Homo sapiens: one gene and its partners. The protein of the gene in region 3 interacts with the protein of the main gene of each other region in a pairwise test. Each region holds a gene or a part of one and is shown on either strand. Other genes may lie near its edges.

Evidence for each region.
Region 1: the proteins of CDK6 (region 3) and TRIM15 interact in binary tests that used the Homo sapiens proteins (3 or more experiments, as listed by UniProt).
Region 2: the proteins of CDK6 (region 3) and CCNI interact in binary tests that used the Homo sapiens proteins (3 or more experiments, as listed by UniProt).

What each region holds. Positions count from the first base shown.
Region 1 is NC_000006.12:30,166,524-30,173,204, reverse strand, and holds the end of TRIM15 (E3 ubiquitin-protein ligase TRIM15), read right to left. Parts: intron 6,030-6,681; coding exon 5,934-6,029; intron 4,906-5,933; coding exon 4,675-4,905; intron 3,965-4,674; coding exon 3,942-3,964; intron 2,705-3,941; coding exon 2,589-2,704; intron 2,230-2,588; coding exon 2,197-2,229; intron 1,374-2,196; coding exon 856-1,373; 3' UTR 512-855; downstream 1-511.
Region 2 is NC_000004.12:77,046,644-77,052,011, forward strand, and holds the end of CCNI (cyclin-I), read right to left. Parts: intron 2,020-5,368; coding exon 1,576-2,019; 3' UTR 512-1,575; downstream 1-511.
Region 3 is NC_000007.14:92,616,547-92,623,579, reverse strand, and holds part of CDK6 (cyclin-dependent kinase 6), read left to right. Parts: intron 1-493; coding exon 494-544; intron 545-5,372; coding exon 5,373-5,508; intron 5,509-7,033. UniProt on the Homo sapiens protein: Serine/threonine-protein kinase involved in the control of the cell cycle and differentiation; promotes G1/S transition. Phosphorylates pRB/RB1 and NPM1.

The sequences.
Region 1 (6,681 bases), on a different chromosome or scaffold from region 3:
CCAAATAATAACTGCAGTAATAACAAATATTTGAGAGGTTAGTTAGACCTGAGCAAAAGCCTCGTTTTCTTAAACAATGGGGCCTGGTGATTGTCCCACTGTCTGTCATCAGGGATATCCTGACTAAAAGAAGGGACAGGATTGTGTCTTGGTCACAGAGGGATCATCACCCTTCCTCTCTGCATCTACTCCCTCGAGCCATCTCGGCCCTAAATTGCCAACACAGGCAGATCCCATTGGATTTAAGCCTTTCTCCAGTCCCATCAGCGCTAATTGGACACATGGAATCCAGAGGTCTGTGAGTCACACTTTCTTAGGACATTCTCTACAAGTCCAGAGAAATGACCAGAAGGGAAGGGAAAGGAAGGGGCCCTGGGGTCCACCCAGGGCTGATAAAAAGGCCCTAAGCCCTACAAAGGTGGAGGCATCTTCAGGTGTGTGTCAAAGTACGAAGTTAACTGTACAAATTAGTGCAAGTCCAGCAAAACCCTGATTTTTCCCAAGATAATTATTTTGAAACAGTTTAAACATTTTATTTTAGATGTCTTTTTCTTTTTTTTCCCCGAAAGCCCGCTGGCTCCTAGGTTGGCTGTTGCCCTAGGCACAGCCGAAGCCGTCTGTGGTTCTGCACTCTGAGGTACAGAGAAGGCCAGAGCGTCACAGGGAGGCTCAGGACGTCAGGGAGCTGAGGGCCTAAGATAAATAAAGTAAAAACAACCGCTGTTCGAGACTCAAGTCCCCTGTTCTCTCGCCTCACGCGGGCACAGGGAGCCCCCGGGCCGCACACTGGCCAGGGGCGGAGCTGGATCCCGGAGAGCCGCCGTCTCCGCTTCGCCGCCCTTCGCGCGCCCCACTTCAGCCTTTCAGCGTAAGGCAGGAACCTTTTTTCCAGACGGCAAAGAAAGGGAAGACTTTGCCGGAGAAAGAGGCAGTGAAGGTGAAGATGGGCTCCTGGGTCTGGGCGTTGTGGAGGGTCACCTGCCCCGCCTCGTAGTCCAGGGCGACTCTCACGCCGCGCGGGATCTCGCTCAGCGGCAGGTCGGTGCCCGGGGAGGTGCTGGCCCAGCACTGCTGGTGCGAGATGATCACGGCCCAGACGCCGTCCTCGGCGCTGAGTCCCATCTCTCCCTTCCTCCTCACCCCCTCCCCGGCCACCCCCACCGTGCAGCCGCCGCCGTCGCCCAGCTGCAGGTCAACCTGCCAGCGGTGGCGCCCGGAGGAGAAGCCCGGGAAGCCCAGAACCGCCGGGAGGCCGTCGAAGCGCAGGGGGCTGTCTGGCAGGCTCTTCTTCTGCCGGGTGTACCTCACTGACTTCCTGTCTTCCGAGAGAACCAGGCTCCGGCTGGCGGTCTGAGGGTCCAGAGTGATGACCCCTAGAGGGAGGAGCGCGCAGACATCAACAGCGGGCGGCAACCACAGATGTTCCTAGAGCAGGCAACGCACGTGGGAGGCAGAAGGAGTACTGGACTTGGGCAGCCTGCCATTGGGCCACTTCTCTGAACCGCCCTTCTACCTAATCAGCAAGTGGTGCTGTTAAGGATTTGCTTCTCAAAGTGCAGCGGGAGGGACCAGCAGCATCCCCACCACCTGGGTGTTTGTTAGAAATGCAGAATATTGGGCCCCATCCCACCCTACTAAATCAGAATCTGCATTTTAACAGGATCCCTAGGAGACGTTTCTGCATATTAAGTTTGAAAAGCACTTACCTATACCAGAGTGAGTGAGGTGATGCTTATGGAAACAACTTCTAAATTAAGCACCAATTTAAAAATAAATGTGATTTTTAAAAAATTGCACATTTTTTGTTCAAATCAGTAGAGAGCCCAGCACAATGCTCTCAAAAAACTAGGGCTTGATAAGTATTTTTCAACGAGTAATATCTACACAAGTAGATGACATTAATTGAGCACTTACTATGAGTCAGGTAATATACTAAGCTCTTTGCATGTATTAATTTATTTTGTCCTCACAGCTACTTATGGGACAGGTACAGTACTTTTATTTTCATTTTACTGATGAAGAAAATATTGTGGGACAGAGGCTTAATAACTTGCCCAGTGTCTCAGAGCTAGCAAGAACTGGAATCGAGAACTCAAGCAATCAAGCTCCAGAATTCATGCATTTTATTGCTCTGTTTGCTGCCATGGATTGAATGGATGAATGGAAGAATGACTCCCCAAATCCCAAGCTGTTTACCTGAATCTATTTCCAGATGATGCGCCAAGTTTTCTGAGGGAAGCAGAAATAGAAAGAGAGATCTGTGACTTATTACTTCTTATAGGCACCCCCAGGGGCAAGGTGACTTGAGTACAATGTGAAGATGAGGACAGAAGACTCGGCTTCTGCTGTGGTCTAGTGGAGGAGAAGGGTCCTCACCCTCCTGGACTCTCAGTCCTGCACCTGTCCTTAGGGAGTGGAGGAGATGCTCTGGGAATAGTGCCCCTGAATAAATTGAGATCACTAAGGGAAGGCTCTGGGGAGGGAAGATGTCTCGAGCCAGGTTTCAAGGGCAGAGAAGGATGGAGATGGGTGGAAGACAGGAGGGCAGCTAATGGGACTGGGGAAAACTGTGGCGCCTTCCCCTTTACCTGAGAACATCCTCATCATCTCTGGGAGGGTGAGTATTTTCCTGTGGAAATCACGGATCTTCTTGACAAGGTCAGGAGAAATGGCCTCAGGACTCACAAAAGTCTTCATCTCACACCTGCAGACAGGTTTGGTAACCAGTTAGGTCCAAATTCCAAAAACAAATGTTCGGGTGAGACCACGTGAGGCTAAAATCAGACTAAAGAATGATCTTGGCGTCTGTGGTGAATAATGAAATTGAGTATCATTTCTTTACTTTTGCTGGAAATGTGTAGTTACTAAAATAGTAGGCATTTCAGTTAAACCTAAGAGGAACTAAGGATAATCACTTCTCAAGAATTGGAGGTAAGCCCCTTTAGGAGAATGTTTGGTTCTGTAGGGGCTGAGGGACAGAGATCATTACCCCTTTTGGTCTCTAGAGGGCAACAGGGTACCATTTGAAAACAGCCTTAAACTACCCTTGTGTATGCTGCTATTTGTAAAGGAAAAGAGGCTAGAAGGGAAGAAAAAAAAAGGATCAACGAAAATATATATTGCAATGAAAAAAACTCCTGATTCTGGTCCCAGCTCAGTCCTCATTAGACACTTGCTGCATTACCTTGAAGACTCTTCACCCCCTGGGTCTCAGTTTCTTCCTCAGACTGGAAGACCTCCAAGCCCTTCTAGATCTAAACCTCTAATGCTCTTTGAAAAGCATGTTTGGAGACACTTCCTGATTCATGGACCCTGGGTTTATCCTCCCTGCACGGGAATAGGCACAAAGCACGTGACAATTGTTCCCTAGTCACTACACCTCTCTTCATCTCAGTGCAGACTGCTAATGCTTATAGCAGACAGGGAAGGAAAGGGCCATGCATTTACAATGCCACTGGCTCCTGGTGGCTGTCCTTTTACAGTAGCATTAGAAAATTCTGAAGGAAACCAGAGATGTGTGTAAAAAATGAATGAATGAAAGAACAGGCTGGTATTCCTGGTTTCCATGCTTATCATAGTCTACAGAAAGTATTCCCCCTTTAAATTACATTTTAAATGGTGTTAGATACTGACTCAAGTACTAATAATTTCATAGATTAAATAAATGTTCCTGGATCAACCTAAAAACATGATTATTATTTATAACTTCACTTCTAGGGGAAAAAATGTGTCCCCAATACCAACCAATCAATTTAAAAATGAACCTTTAGAACGCAAATCTTTAGTGAGTTTGGACTGTTTGTGCACAGTTGAATGAGACAGTGTGTCTGCCAGAGTGCCTTTGCTTTCCTGGCAAAGTGGGTGGCAGTAAGTGCCCCTGCCCCTTCCCATTCAGTCTTGATGTTGAGTAAAAGGAGGCAGGACCGGGGAGTGGGCCCTACCTGCTCTGGTTGACTCTGACATCCTGCAAAAGAAAGACAAGAACATACATTTAGTTTCCATAAGTCCTTCCTGTCAGGGATTCTGTACATCACTTTTCCCTTAAAATATGAACTCAAAACTCTCCTTCTGCAGAGAGTTGTCCTGTTTAATTACCTACTCATTAGATTGTTCTTTTACATCATGTTTTCTTACTAATTTGGGTTTCTGTAGTCAGTTCATTTGTGCTGGTTTCCCTGTTTCAGCCTTATCGTGGGGGTGGGTTGTGTCTGCAATGATTAGGAGGTGGTAGAGAGCAGGGGCCTGCCTTCAGTTATCAGCTGGACCTGATGTGAGCCAGGATCACATATTCATAACCATAGCAGACACCAGTTATTGAGTTCTTTCTGTATATCAGGAATCATGCCAAGCATTTTTTATGGATTGTTTCTTATAATTTTGCAATAACTTTATGAGGGAGGTGCTATTGCTGTCCCCATGTTTAGAGAGGCTAAGAGACTCACTCAAGTCACACAATTGGAAGAGCCAACATTCAAATCCAAGACTGTCTGACCCTAAACCCCTTAACATGACCACAGTGTATGACTTGGGCAAGTCTCCAGCCCCTCTGGATCTGCACCCCGTTAACCTCTCTCCACTTCCCTTTCCTGCCTCTCTCCAGCCCAAAGCATGGTGCCCACCCCCTTCCCCGTGGAGTCCCTCTCTTATCCTACAAAGTGGTGAAGTGTCTCTCACTTGTAGAAGCTCACTTGCTGGCTGCTGACACTTCTCCTCCAGCTCCTTGACCTGGGCTCCAAGCCGGGTGACTTCCTCAGAGACCTTTGTGATATATTCATCCCTCTCCTTCCAAATCTGCTGCTCCAGCTCCCTCAGCCTGGCCAGCAGGAGACATCGCTGCTGCTCCAGCTCCTGCTGCAGCCTCTCAAAAGCTGTTTCCACCTGATGCTTCTTGCTTTCGATCTGAGTCTTCAAGGGATAAAAGGCAGACATGGTTAGGAAGGGGCTCAGAGATAGCTTCCAGGATGATCATCTATATACTTATTATTGATTAACAGGGATAGGGAGCAACTGGTCCAAGACTCATTCCATTTACTAATATGCCTAGAAGTAGTTAGGTCTCAGGATGAACTTACCAATGATGAGGGCTGTGCTACTGTCTTAGCTAGATACTCTAATAATAATGCTACATTATGCTCTCAGAATGATGTTGAACTTTTCAAAAATATTTCCACAACTACAATACCATCATAACCCTACTATGCCTTCTTAGAGTTAGGTGGGGAAGACTGTAATAATTTCTTAGAGGCAAAAGGAAGTTGTGATTGGAGTCAACACAACTTAGTGGGAGAGTGTGTAATTTTGGTTTTAGCCGTGGAAATCACCAACTACAGGGCATACGTTGATGAGAGCTGAGGGATGGTGGATAGGTTGCTTTGTCCCCACACTCTCTCCTTGGTCAAGGTACCAGAAATCCTCACACTGTGATTCCTCCATAACTTTATAGCATGAAAAGAGAGGCGTGAGGGATCCAGATGTAGCCACACCATCAGCCTACTCTCCTCAAGGTCAGCCTGTAGTCAGGACTAGAATCCCGACACTAACATATGTTTTTGACCCCAAGCTTCCCATCTGAAGGTGGTGTGTTCAGGCAAACAGACTAGGATGGAAAGAACAATGAATTAAGGGTCAAGAAATCCAGGTTCCTCATGAACTTCAGCTTTGCTATGTGGCCTTGGGAGCATTGCTTTTCTGGTCCTAAGTTTTCTGCTCTGTAAAATGTGATATACAAGATGGATCTTGGATTGCAAGACATCAGAACCACTTCTAGTGCTCATGGTCTGAGATCCCAAATGCCTTTGTGCAGCCACAGGAAGGTGAACGAGAACAGTTTGTCAGTTCTTTTCAGCCAGGAAACAGATACCAGCCAACGGGTTTCCCCAGAGTCTCTTAAGAAAACCTTCAAAGGAAAAGGTAGCCAGTGACGTGGCCTGTACCAGCAGCACTTGAAGCTTCTGGTCTTCTTGACACTTTACATCCTCAATCTCATCTCTCTCCGTGCTCAGAGCTTCCAGTCGACTCCTGAGACGATCCTGTGGGGAGAAGAATGGGTGGATAGAGGTGACTGAATTAATAATTCAACTCACAATTATTAACTATCACATCCTGGGCACACTGTTGAGTGCTGAGGGGTTCAAAGGTGGAAAAGGCCCAGTCCTTGCCCTAAAGAGACCACCATCTCAGGAAGAAGTCAATGTCAAGTGATTAAAATACAGATAGATAAATGCAATAGTCCAGGGGTACACACAGTGAGATGGGAACACAGAGGTCAGCTCTGCCTGTAGGCCTAAGGGAAGGTTTGGAAAGCAGAAAACATTTACAATGTGCCTTGAAAGATAAATTTCCAGTTGAATAGAGAGGGAGAGAAAAGGACTTAGTGCCCACAGATGTGAAGGACCTCTTCAAGGAGAACTACAAACCACTGCTCAAGGAAATCAGAGAGAACACAGACAAATGGAAAAACATTCCATGCTCATGGATAGGAAGAATCAATATTGTGAAAATGGCCATACTGCCCAAAGTAATTTATAGATTCAGTGTTATCCCTATCAAGCTACCATTGACTTTCTTCACAGAATTAGAAAAAACTACTTTATATTTCATATGGAACCAATAAAGAGCCCACATAGCCAATACAATCTTAAGCAAAAAGAATGAAGCTGGAGGCATCATGCTACCTGACTT
Region 2 (5,368 bases), on a different chromosome or scaffold from region 3:
ATCAGGATGAGAAATTTTTAAAATGTCTATCTGTGAAGCCAATCCTTTGCTATCTTCCCTCCCACTCCCTTTACTGACATGTGAGTAAATGCTTCCCATTTAATTGGATTTTAAGGTCATAAAACAGGTAAGTCAACCCTACCACAAGAATTTTTTACAAATCAGATGATGACCTGAAAATACTCTTGTTCTGCTAAATCTGAACATTACAAAATGGCTAAAAATGACATTTTAAAGATAGGGGTCTGAGCCTACTCTCACAAGCAGTCACATTAAGATGTAAATTTACTATTTGGAGGATTCACAGTGCACCAGTGAAAAAATATCACGAAAGAAAAATTCTTATGTCTAAAACCTATATCCCTCGATCACATTCAGATCCTCTTCATGTTTTATTTTCAGTAAGTGTATTCTTGGTCTTTCTATTGTTTTCTCTAGTTGAAATAGCAGTGCCTAGCCAATCAGGAACCTGTACCTCTTCACAACCAGAAAAAAGTCACAAAAACAAAAGTTAAGGACAACTTTTTATTGCTACCAGAGGCTTTTATCATCAGTACACAGTTCTGACTGCAATACCTTTTTCAGACTGCAAAGGGAGCTCAGGATCCAGAAGTCATTAAAAGAAACATAAGGCTGGGGAGGCAGGGGGAGTAAGTTCTATTAGAAAATCCTAATAGCTTAACAAAACTAGGGTACTAAATTCAGTTATAACATGTTACAGACTTAAATCATAGAGCTGCCCCAACATCTAGACAGTCTCTCCTACTGATTATAAATGAGTGAAAACTATCAGTTAGAAAAATCTAATTTAAGTTGTTAATACATGTTTCTTTGGTGAGCACCTGGATATATTTATCACAAATTCTTTTATACAAATGTCGAAAATGCTTTCAACAAACCTAAGTGTCCTAATTACATGCCACTTTTAAGCATCACTTTAAGGTAAACAAAAATGAAAACCATAATTTTAAATTAAAATTTGAAATGAGACACAAAATCAACCTGGTAATATGAGAACTTTTTCTTTTGCCATCTCTGATTAATATGGGACAATTCCAAAGTACCCTTTTCAGACTAATTGGAACTTGAGTCATGGCTGTCACACTGAAATAATTTGTTCATTCAACTGCAGTGAAAATCAATATAGATCAACATGCATAAAGTTCAGTAACTATTAAATGGAGAAGCAAGCAAAAGCAACAGGAAAATTAAATCAGGATGCTGAGGGGGAACAGGATTGCTGGCCATGAATTTTAATTGAATTTTTGACGGGGCAAGCTACGTTACATTATGGCAGAAAAAAAGTGCAACTGACATACTACAAAGAGATTTTTTAAGTTTAAAAAAAGTTTGGATCTTTTGGATTTCTTTTTTTTTTTTTTGGTCTTTATGTGCTTAAATAACGCTGAATTATAATTAGCCACACAAATAATGAGAGTTTTATTTTTTTTTTCTGGCTCACTCCAAATCAGCCTGTTAAGGTATATTTCCTTCTACAGCCTTTCCTGATTTTGCATGTTCTCATTCCCAAAGTAGTCTACCTTAGTTTACACTCAAAGGTAGCACTTGTTGAAACTACATGACAGAAACAGGCTGCAAAGGTGGACAAGGGGAAGCATGTCCCTCTTGTCTTGATAAATCAGTGCCACACACAGAACCCACATTTTCTGAGACATTATCTTCATTATAGAGCCGTTTGATTCCATCATAGAAGTCATCCACTTCCATTTCCTCTACTTTGCGTTTAGTAGAGGTCTGCTTGCACCCACTGGCAGCTGGGAGATGATGGTAAAAGGCTGCTGTACCTCTGACTGGCACTTCTGGCTTGCTGTTGTCCTTGGAGAAGTCTGGGCCTGGGACAGAGGAGGGATGTAATCTGAACACTCCTTTGTCACAGGTCACCAGGGTGTGCTTGAGGGGACGGTAGACATAAACGGAATTCAGAGGCAGGGAAGACTGCAGAGTAGAAAGGTGATGTGCCACAAGCTCCCGACAATGGATCAACTGGGAGCTATCCATCTGGGCCAGGAAAAAAAAAAAGCCACACACAGTTGATCATTAATTAACATAGGCTGCTCTGTTATCTCTGGTGGCCATTTTTCCTCCCTGTGCTTTCCGTCCCCGCTGAGTCTTTTCTCTCCCCACATCTACCTCCAACTCATTTATTTATCCAGCTACCCATCCATCAACATCATCTTAGAAATTAGGTCCAAATCTGTATTTCTAATATAATTATCTTTGGAACTTGAGTTTTGTATTTGCAATGTATGCTGAACATTTACATGAGAACAGAAACTACTTTTTTGTATCCAACGTCTGTTTTTTTTTTTTTTTTTTTTTTTTTTCAGTCTATTCCCCCTGTCTGGAAGGCCCTTCATCCTACTCTCTTGGCCTCTTCTAATTTTTTTCAGTGGAGTCCAAAGTACTCATAAACACATTCATTAAAAATGTAAGAAGCCAAAGGGCAAAAAAAAAATTTTTTTTAATCAGGGATGAGGAGGGAAGCTAAGAATTTTAAAATAGTAAATGAAAAATTTAGAAATATGTATTTTGTAGAAAATAGTAGACTTAGCACTAAGATGAAATGTTTTTGGTAAAGTTTTTAATTTGGGAGTTTTGCTGATTCCTTCTTACCCTTCAGGACAATTCACAGATATCAATCCTTTCTGGAGTTACCCCTGACTCCCTCAACACCCCAAAACTCTAAATGCCACGGTCATCTGTTTCTATATCAACCTTTTAACATATTTATGGCCAGGCGTGGTGGCTCATGCCTGTAATCCTAGCACTTTGGGAGGCCAAGGCAGGTGGATCGCTTGAAGCCAGAAGTTCAGACCAGCCTGGCCAACATGGCGAAACCCCTTCTCTACTAAAAATACAAAACATTAGCAGGACATGGTGGCAGATGCCTGTAATCCCAGCTACTCAGGAGGCTGAGGCATGAGAATAGCTTGAGCCCAGGAGGTGGAGGTTGCAGTGAGGTGAGATCAAACCACTGCATTCCAGCCAGGCCAACAGACAGAGCAAGACTCTGTCTTAAAAAAAAAAAAAAAAGACACTAAAACCTTTCAACGTATTTACCACATTTCAGTATAATAATCTATTTAACCATTTAGCCTTTCCATTATAGACTACAAGACCAAAGGTGTGGCATTGTATTATATTCATCTTTTTATCCCTAAGTTTCTGGCACAATGACTGTACATGGAAGGCCTTTAAATTATTACCTGTAGTAAAGTGTCTCTCTTCCTCACTTTCAATTACAGCATTGTCAAAATAACCTTAGTTAGCATCATATATTCCTTCCCTGCTCTCTCCAGCGGCACCCCAATGCCTACCAGAAATAAGCTAAACTGCTTAGTTTAGTATTAATAAGAATCTCCATAATCTGATCTCAACCTTCTTTTCTAGCCTTATTTCCTAGCATACCCTCAACTTGTGGTCTACACTCTTGCTCAACAGTCCTGCTCTATATGATGCACTAATCTTCCCCTTTCTTATTTTACCCTTAATCATCTTATTTCTACCTGTTGAAATTGTATTGCGCATTCCTTCCAGGACTGGCTAAACACCATCACCTTCAGGAAGCCTATCTTGACCATTTAACTATCAGGGATCACTTTTTTCCAGTTTTGAGTATTCTGGACATTTCTGTACCAAGTCTTACTTATCCTCATATAACCTGCAGCACTCACCATGACTGTTTGCAATACCACAGAGAAAATAGGGGAAAATAACGCACTCTACAAGAACACATTTGGTCACAAAATTATTTTTATCTCTAAATACATTCACTATTTGTTACTGAAAAATACCAGAGGAAAGAATGGTAAAAGGCTGATGTTAGTCATTGTATAATACAAATGCAAAGTAACTGAAACTGTCAGAAATATACAAGAAAATGGCAGATTTTAGCATCTACCATAATGTTCACTGATTTTTTTCCCCTAGTTTGAAAGGCATTAGATAACACACTGTGGGTAAGACACTATTAACTAGTATTAGAATTTGTTCTCCCTCCCTTAAAAGAAAAAAAGTTAACATAACACTTAAGATAGTCCCTGAACTATCAAGCTTACATTTAGGCTAGGTCTTATTATATATCCCAGGGATGTAGAACAAGCTGAAACATGCTAAAAACATTGGAACAAAGCACAGAGAAAGGATGGAGCTTCTGCCAATATTTTAGGAAGCCTAAAAAAAAAAAAATGAAAGAAACTGGGAGTAAAAAAGGGGCTATAGTGTAGAAATTATTTCTAAAAAATAAGTACAGTCATCCCACAGTATCCATGGGGGATTAGTTCTAGGATCCCCCAAAAGATAACAAAACCCAACATGCTCAAGTCTCTTATATAAAATAATGTAGTATTTGCATATAACCCACTCGCATTGTCCTGTATACTTTAAATCATCCCTAGATTACTTATAATACCTAACAGAATGCCTACACATCACTTCATCTGTGTAGATTCAATGTAGTACTCAGCATGCCACAAATTCCAGGTTTTTTTGGAACTCTGTGAAATTTCTTCCTGAATATTTTCAATTCACGGTTGGTTGAATCCAGATGCCAAACCCATGGATATGGAGAGCCAACTGTACCTCGTTTAATGAAATGTTCTTTAGCAAATGAATGATATTTATTGGCCTAAAAAGGTAAAGGTACCACAAATATTCTAATGCCTTGGTCACTGGGCATAATAAATGCCATGGCAGAATCAATACTATGGCAGAATCCTAAAAAGACATGTATTTAAGTAAGAGGAAGACTATGTCACTATAATCTTTCTGTGTGAAAAAACGAAGTAAATAGAGTTATATTTTAGCGGTGGGAGACTGACAAGAAATGATAGAGCTAAAAGACCTTAGAAATTATTCAAAACAAAACCATCCATATGAACTCCACTTCCACCCAAGTCCCAAGTAAGTCTTTTCTCCAAAATAACATCAAAATAAATTCCTTCTAATCTAGTACAATCTGAATTTGTTCTATAAGACACCAAAATAATTTGTTCCTTCTTGAGATCCAGTGGAAGAAACAAAACAAGCACATATACTGGAACTACCAAAACTCTCGACACCAGACAAGTACTCTAATGGAGTTGATAAAAAGGACTTAAATGAACTCTAATTATAAGGTGTCAAGAGAATATGTATTATTTTTTATAACAATAAATGACATAAATGGTAGGTCCAGATGGATCCAGGTTTGATGAACAGCATGAAGCACTGAGGAACCTGCTGGAATAGTCTGACCACAGCCACCTTCAAAAAGAACCAGGAGACTGGTGGGGAGGGGTCTGTTTTTTTGTTTTTTTTTTTTTAAATTTGCTTCTTTTTACTTTTAGATGGTACATGTGCAGGTTTA
Region 3 (7,033 bases):
TAATTAGAAAAATAGACCCAGAGGTGGTTCACTGCAGCATTGAGGACAAATGAAAGGAGAGAGACCCATGAGGAAGTACTCTGATAGCAGAGTAGTATGGAAAAAGTGCTCTGAGAAATATCAAAGAATCTCACCTATTTATGGTTCGAGACTAGGATGGTGGTATGTTCCACCTTATCACGAAGTTAAGCAGATCTTTGAAACCTGGAACTGAATTTGACGGTAGCACTGTTGTAAGAATGACTGCAAACAGAATGCCCGTGATTGTAAAACATGGAATTCATCTACCACCAGGTATTCATGAGAGATCCTAACCCATACATGAAATGCAGGGAAAACCTTCACTTACCAAAGGAAAAATGTCTCAATTTTTTTTACTTCTTCCCAACCCATAAAGAATATTTTGCTTCCTGTGAAACAATGATAATGGCAAATATGATTGAAATGTAATCTGAGAACATTTCTTATTTAAAATGTATCTTTATTCTTTTAGGCCTCTTTTTCGTGGAAGTTCAGATGTTGATCAACTAGGAAAAATCTTGGAGTAAGTAATAATTATAATTTTACACCAGTGTCCATAGCATTAAAACATTTACAGTGACTTTCCTCTGACATGCATATCATGTGTTTATCTCTTGTCTTTCTTACTTCAAGCAGCTGCTGCAGACAGTGTTACTATTTGTGTGGTGAGTGGAGACATGGTAGAAGTGCCGTTTTATGCAGAGCCCTAACTGCTCTGCTCTGGAAGCTTGTATGTTGCTTGTGTGGATCTTTTTGCTGCTCCTCTTTCTTCGTGTGGCTGAGCTCCAGTTCTTTTAGTTCAAATACATTTTCTGCTTGTGGTCATTTCAAAAGCACCCACCATCAGAGATGGGATGCCTGGTGACCAAGTACCCATCCTTGTCCAGTGAGCTTCCTGTCCCCACTGAGTATCCTTGGTCACCCAGGTTGGTTCTGCGTTGTTTTGTTTTGTTTTCCTGGGCGAAGGATGGTATGCTACACATCTCATTTTTCTTTGGAGCACCAAAATAGAAAATGAGAACCCTAAGTCTTTGGCAAAATAACTCTGCAACTTTGAGAAAGTCATTTAAAACACCTCGTGAAGGGCTTACACAGTGCCTGGCACATAGTAAGCACTTTAAAAAGTTATCTATTACTGTTACTATTAGAGTTCATCATTAATTATTTAACCTTTTATTTCCTTAACTTCATCTGAGAAATGAAACTCTGACTTAAATTCTCTATAAGATCCTTTCTTGTGCTCAAATTCTTTGGTTTCAGTTACATCGCTCCTTGATGATTTACATAGTTTCATTCATGTCTGCATGTTCATGCATGTATGCATTCATGTTTCTAGAATGTAACTGGGGCACTTCTTCTGACAAAGCATGCAGTGTGGCATCCTTTTTTGGTTTTTTGTGTTTGAAAGGCCCATCCAAATTGGAGTGGAGTAGGAAAAAAGTGGGAGTTCTAGACCAAAAATAGCCCTGATCTTTGGTCTGTGACATTTTATAGGAATCCCAGTGATTTTTATGAAATTCGAAGTCTGTAAGACTGAAAAAAAAAAAAAAACCACCCCTAAAGAACAGATTTTCATATCAGCACTGTCTACTCAAGCGTGACTGCTTAAAACAGTTAATAAAACTGGAACCTGATTTTGTTCTTTTAGTGACTAGAAGCAGCTAGACTTCTGTTAATGCCAGTGCTACTGCTGAGTCAGAACATAGTAGCTTTAAGGCCTGAATAACATTTGCTAGTTTTTTATGCCTGGGGGCTTCCTGGGTCCAGGGCAGGTGATGCTACTGCTCCTACTACTGACCACTCTGTACAGTGGATAAATTCAACACAAAGCCTTCATGTTACCCCTGCTTCTGAATGGCAAGTTATTTAATCACTCGATGAACTCCCATCTATTTTTCCCCATGACTGTTGAATATATTTTGTGTGCATGTGATCATAAAGAGGAAACTAGGGAAAGCAGACATACTGATGACCTTCTGTTAAAAGGAAAGAGAATCTTGACTAAAGTCAGCTTGCCAGGACTTGAAAGCCATCACCTTCTTTCCCTTATTTATACTACCTGACAGTTGTGTCTACCTCCAGCACTGATGTCTGCAATCTTGTTAACATTGTTAGTGCCCCCTTAGTACATGAGGCCAGTGAAATGGACCAGAAGGAACATTTGACCGGCATGTTTGACCTGCTTCCAAAGAAAAGCCAGTTCTGCTTTTGGCAAAGTCCTGACAATCGTAGGTTGCCAACAGCAAAGAAGCTGTAGAGTTCTATGGTTTGTGCCTTTAGATTTTACTTTGTGGTTTCTGGCATTGTGTCATCAAAATTATGTTCTGTTTCCTCTGAATGCATTACCTTGCCAGAGAAAAGGGACAATGCTGCACCCTAGCGTCACTGCTGAAGTACTTGAAAAAATATTTCTGTCTCCTCCATCACTGCCATTTATAGATTTTGTGCCCTGTTGGGCTTGCCAATATAAATGTCAACTTTTAAGGCTTATATTCAGCAGTCCAAATAGTGGAATTAAGTGCAAGCATTTTTAATGGACCTATCAGAATTTCACAACACATATTTGGGCCATAAAAGTTCATTCTGGACATGAAACCAAATTTTTTTTAAGGAAAGCCATATTCACATACTCTTTTTTATTTTTTTCTTTGGAGACAAGGTCTTGCCCTGTTGTCCAGGCTGGAGTACAGTGGTGCGATCTTGGCTCACTGAAGCCTTGGCCTTCCGAGCTCAAGTAATCCTCCTATCTAAGCCTCCCAAGTAGCTGGGACTACAGGCACAGGGCACCACAACCAGCTAATTTTTATATTTTTTATAGAGATGGAGTTTCACCATGTTGCCCAGGCTGGTCTTGAACTCCTGGGGTCAAGTGGTCCACTTGCCTCGGCCTTCCAAACTGCTGGGATTACAGCCACCCCACCTGGTCCATGTTCACATACTCTTAAAGGGAAAAACATTTCTGTGTTTAGGAAGATTTAAGCCTTCAAGTAATAGCAAGTATTAAAAGTGAAACAATAGTTTTAGCCTGTGACATCTTAGAGCATTTTTAAGAATGATGTCATAGCTAAATGGAAATAAAATATTGGAATAGAGAGAACGGAACTCACTCTGGACTCTGTGACTGAGCTTGCTATCTGTGACTTTGGCAGTTCATTTTATTCCTCATTCTCAATTTCCCCATCTATAAAATGAGACTAATAACACCTGACTTACATGTCTTAGGAAATTATTACAGGAATCAGAGGAGGTGATAGACTTAAAGTTTTATATATATAGTTATGTGTTTGTTTAAAATTTTATATAAAATTATATAAAGTTATTTGTATATGTACACACATACAAACAGAGATGTGCTGTTCCTCTGAAGGCTTTTGGCATTCAGTTGATCATATACTTGCAAGATGTAATTAGATGTAGATACATTCAAAGCCACAAATAAAAAAGATTTTAAATATTTCTAGGAGTTATTAATATAATCAATTTCTAGCTGACTGGTGAATATACACAAAAATATTGATACACATAGACCTGACAACTAAAAAGGAATGAAAGGAAATTTTTAAAGCTCTCTAACAAGCATTTTTCATTCCCTCCTCTGCCCTGTCCCATTGTATCCAGACACTTACACGTGCATTTCTTTTCATAATTAATAGTGGTATTTTTGGTTTTTTTCTTTTTACTTCTATTGTAGGCTGTACTATTGAACAAATCTATATATTGCTCATTGTCATTTCTATTTATTGCTTCTAGTAAATATGTCCATGAATCTGTCTTTGCCTCAATAATGTAGCTCTCTCAGTATGCCTGATAGAGGCCGAATTACAGTGTCTTCCCCAGACACCCAGGCAGAGAAGCCATGATGACAGGGTTATCTTCCCAGCTGAAGTCTATGGCCTGGGCTCCGTGTAGGTGAGGGAAGGGGAAATGAAGTGCTACAGATCTTGAGACCTGTACCACATCTTCCTGAAATCTGGAAGTACATTCATAAGAACACCTCTTCCTGGGCCTTAGTCCCAACAAGTAGAGGCCAAGCAGAAGACCCTAATGTGGGCCAGCACAATTTCTAACTGTAGTTAAAATTATTTGTTCCAGTATTTGAATAGCTATGTACCCCGTCCACTAAACTATGATTTTATTTTTGGTTCAGAGTTATACAGTCTGTGTGAGAAAGAAGTCCCTGCATCCTCTGATTTTCTCTGTTCAAACCTACTTACGACCTATATGTAAACTATAAATAATATCTATACAATGTATAAGTTATGTAAGTCCATTGACCCATTAATTTTTTAAAGAATCTTAAGTTATACATAGATACAAGCAGTTCATATTTTAAGTGTGGTAGTGATGTATTTCCTATGCATCTTGTATTAATAACATTTTCTAATTATAATAATAGTAGGCAGTGTATTGATTGATAATTGACTGTGTGTGATGTATATCAGGTGCTGTGCTTTGTACTTTAAATTATAAATTTATATATTACTATAAATTCAAATAAAGTATAACTGATCCTCATTACAACTGTAAGTTATTATCATTGTATACATAAAGACACTAAGGGTCATAGATGTTAAGTAATTTGTCCTTACCTGCCAGTAAGTGGCAGGTGCAGGATTTGAACCCAAATCTGCCTATTTCCGAAGCCTGTGCTTATCACTTGCTGTTCTTTCCACATTTCTGATCCCAGAATGGTTTTCAGGGGAAATATAAATAATAGTCTTTTAATTTACTGTTTGCTCACTTTGGAATACCACAGACTTCCTTTTATAAAATCATGTTTGTATAATGCAGGACTAGCACGTTTTAGCCTCATTTTTCCTTCTGATTCTAATGTATATATTTAATATGTAGGGAATTGCTCTTTAACCAAAAATGCAACCAAATTGATATGTTAATAAACCATGTTGGATGAGCATCATAAAATCATGTCAATACTGGGGTGTTCGATCAAAACACAAAAAGCATTCTTGGACATAAAGGAAGATATGTACCAGTATGGGTCTCCTCTGAATACAATAAGTCCTGCTTTGTCACTAAGTCAGAGCTTACTGCCTGGTAATATATTTTCTATTTCTACATCATCCCTTACATTTAGTGTCTGCTACCAGAGCAATCTCTTATCTCCTCCCACTGAATTTTACAATTCTTCTGTGAGATTACCCTCTCCCCCATGGCCACCATATTGCAGTAGGACAGAGATAAACAGAGACCCTGCCAGTGATAAAGTGAAGGTCTCCTGGGACTCTGCCCCCCATGTCTCCCCCTTAGATTTTGCCTTTCTCTGGAAATTGATGAGAAAACAGCTTCTGCATAGTAGCTAATGCTTATGTCCATGTGTGGTTCTTTTGTAGCGTGATTGGACTCCCAGGAGAAGAAGACTGGCCTAGAGATGTTGCCCTTCCCAGGCAGGCTTTTCATTCAAAATCTGCCCAACCAATTGAGAAGTTTGTAACAGATATCGATGAACTAGGCAAAGACCTACTTCTGGTAAGTTTTTCTGATGTCAAGCTCGTCTGCACTGTGCCAGTGAGACACCTGCTCTACCCAGACTGGGTGGTGGGCACAAATATCAGTTCAGTAGCTGCTATAGGCATCACATGCCACAGCCACATGGAGCAGGAGGCAACAGTCCCTCCAGAGGTTTCATTTTCACACTTGTAGCAGCTGGTGGCTTTTGATTCTGGAATGTCTTTCTGATCCACATTTTTTTAAATCTGCCATCTTTGAATGTTTATTTCAATGCAGGTTTAGAAGCCTCTCGATTCACTTTGACATATGTTTCTTTAGAAGTAAATATTATGTTTCCTTTCTTACAGTTTCATGCTACTTTAAGTAATTTGTTTGTCATTTTAACGTGCCTTTTCTTAAACATTCACAACTTTGGGGAGATGTTTTTCCAAAAGAACTATATAGCAATACTTCTTCTAGTTGCTGATTTATTTAATAAGTATTTAGTGTGCCAGGGACATATAAAATACCTCACTGAAAATAAGGACTTCTGTGCTCTGAGACTCTTAATGCTCAACCATATACATAATTTCCTATACTTGGAGGCCAGAACAATAGGTAGAAAAGTGTACCTGTTGGGCTGTTCTTGATGTCTGAAACCCAGTGAGTAATGAGTGTCTGCTTTACCTCCTGAATTAACAGCCTTTGATATCTGCTTCTGCCCGTGGGTGAAGCACAGGTCTTCTCCATGTGTCTCATGCTGGGGCCCATGCCAGAGAGGCAGCAGCTCCCTGGGGCATGTTTTTCTCATGATAGAAGGTATCGATGCTCCAGAAGGGCAAGCAGAAATATGCAATGCCCCTGAAGGTCCATACTTGGAAGAAGTACCCGCCACTCTGCCCATGTTCCATTGGCCAAAGCAAGTTCCATGCCTAAGGCCAACTTGAATGGAGGAAAGAATGCTCCCCCTATGGTGAGAGGGGAGAGAAAAGAGGGAATATGTACTAAAAGTTATCCAATCTACCATAGTATCCAACTCTTGACTAAGTTGTGATTCCAAAAGCTCATTTTATAAGTAAACTATTTGGCAATTAAACTAAATTTTCTTGCAGAAACAATATTATTAACACAAAGTTTTTTAATTAACCCTCAACCTGGCAACCTTGTTCCTGAAGTAGAGCAATAATAGAACTTAAACACCTTTTTTTTAACCATATTTCTATAGGACAAAATGTATTAAGACTTCCAACGTGAGATTCTCCCACACCCCCACATTTGGCTAAGGTGTTCTCCTTCTCTCCACCCTCTTCCCAGCTTTAAGCCATCAGTGTAGCTGTGAGGAAAGGGCTTCCTCTCACATAATCCTCTAGAGACATGTCTCTGTATTGTGAATGTATTCCCACAGCTCTTTTCTCTTCTTTCCTATGTCCTGGAGATTAAATGCCACTACCTAATTTTCTCCTTCTTGGGCTCTGGGAAAAGAGAACTCAGGCTCAGGAATTTTGCCCCTGCTTTCCGGTCCTTTGGGAATTCAGCCCTTGCAAAGCTTTTCTAGAGATGTTTC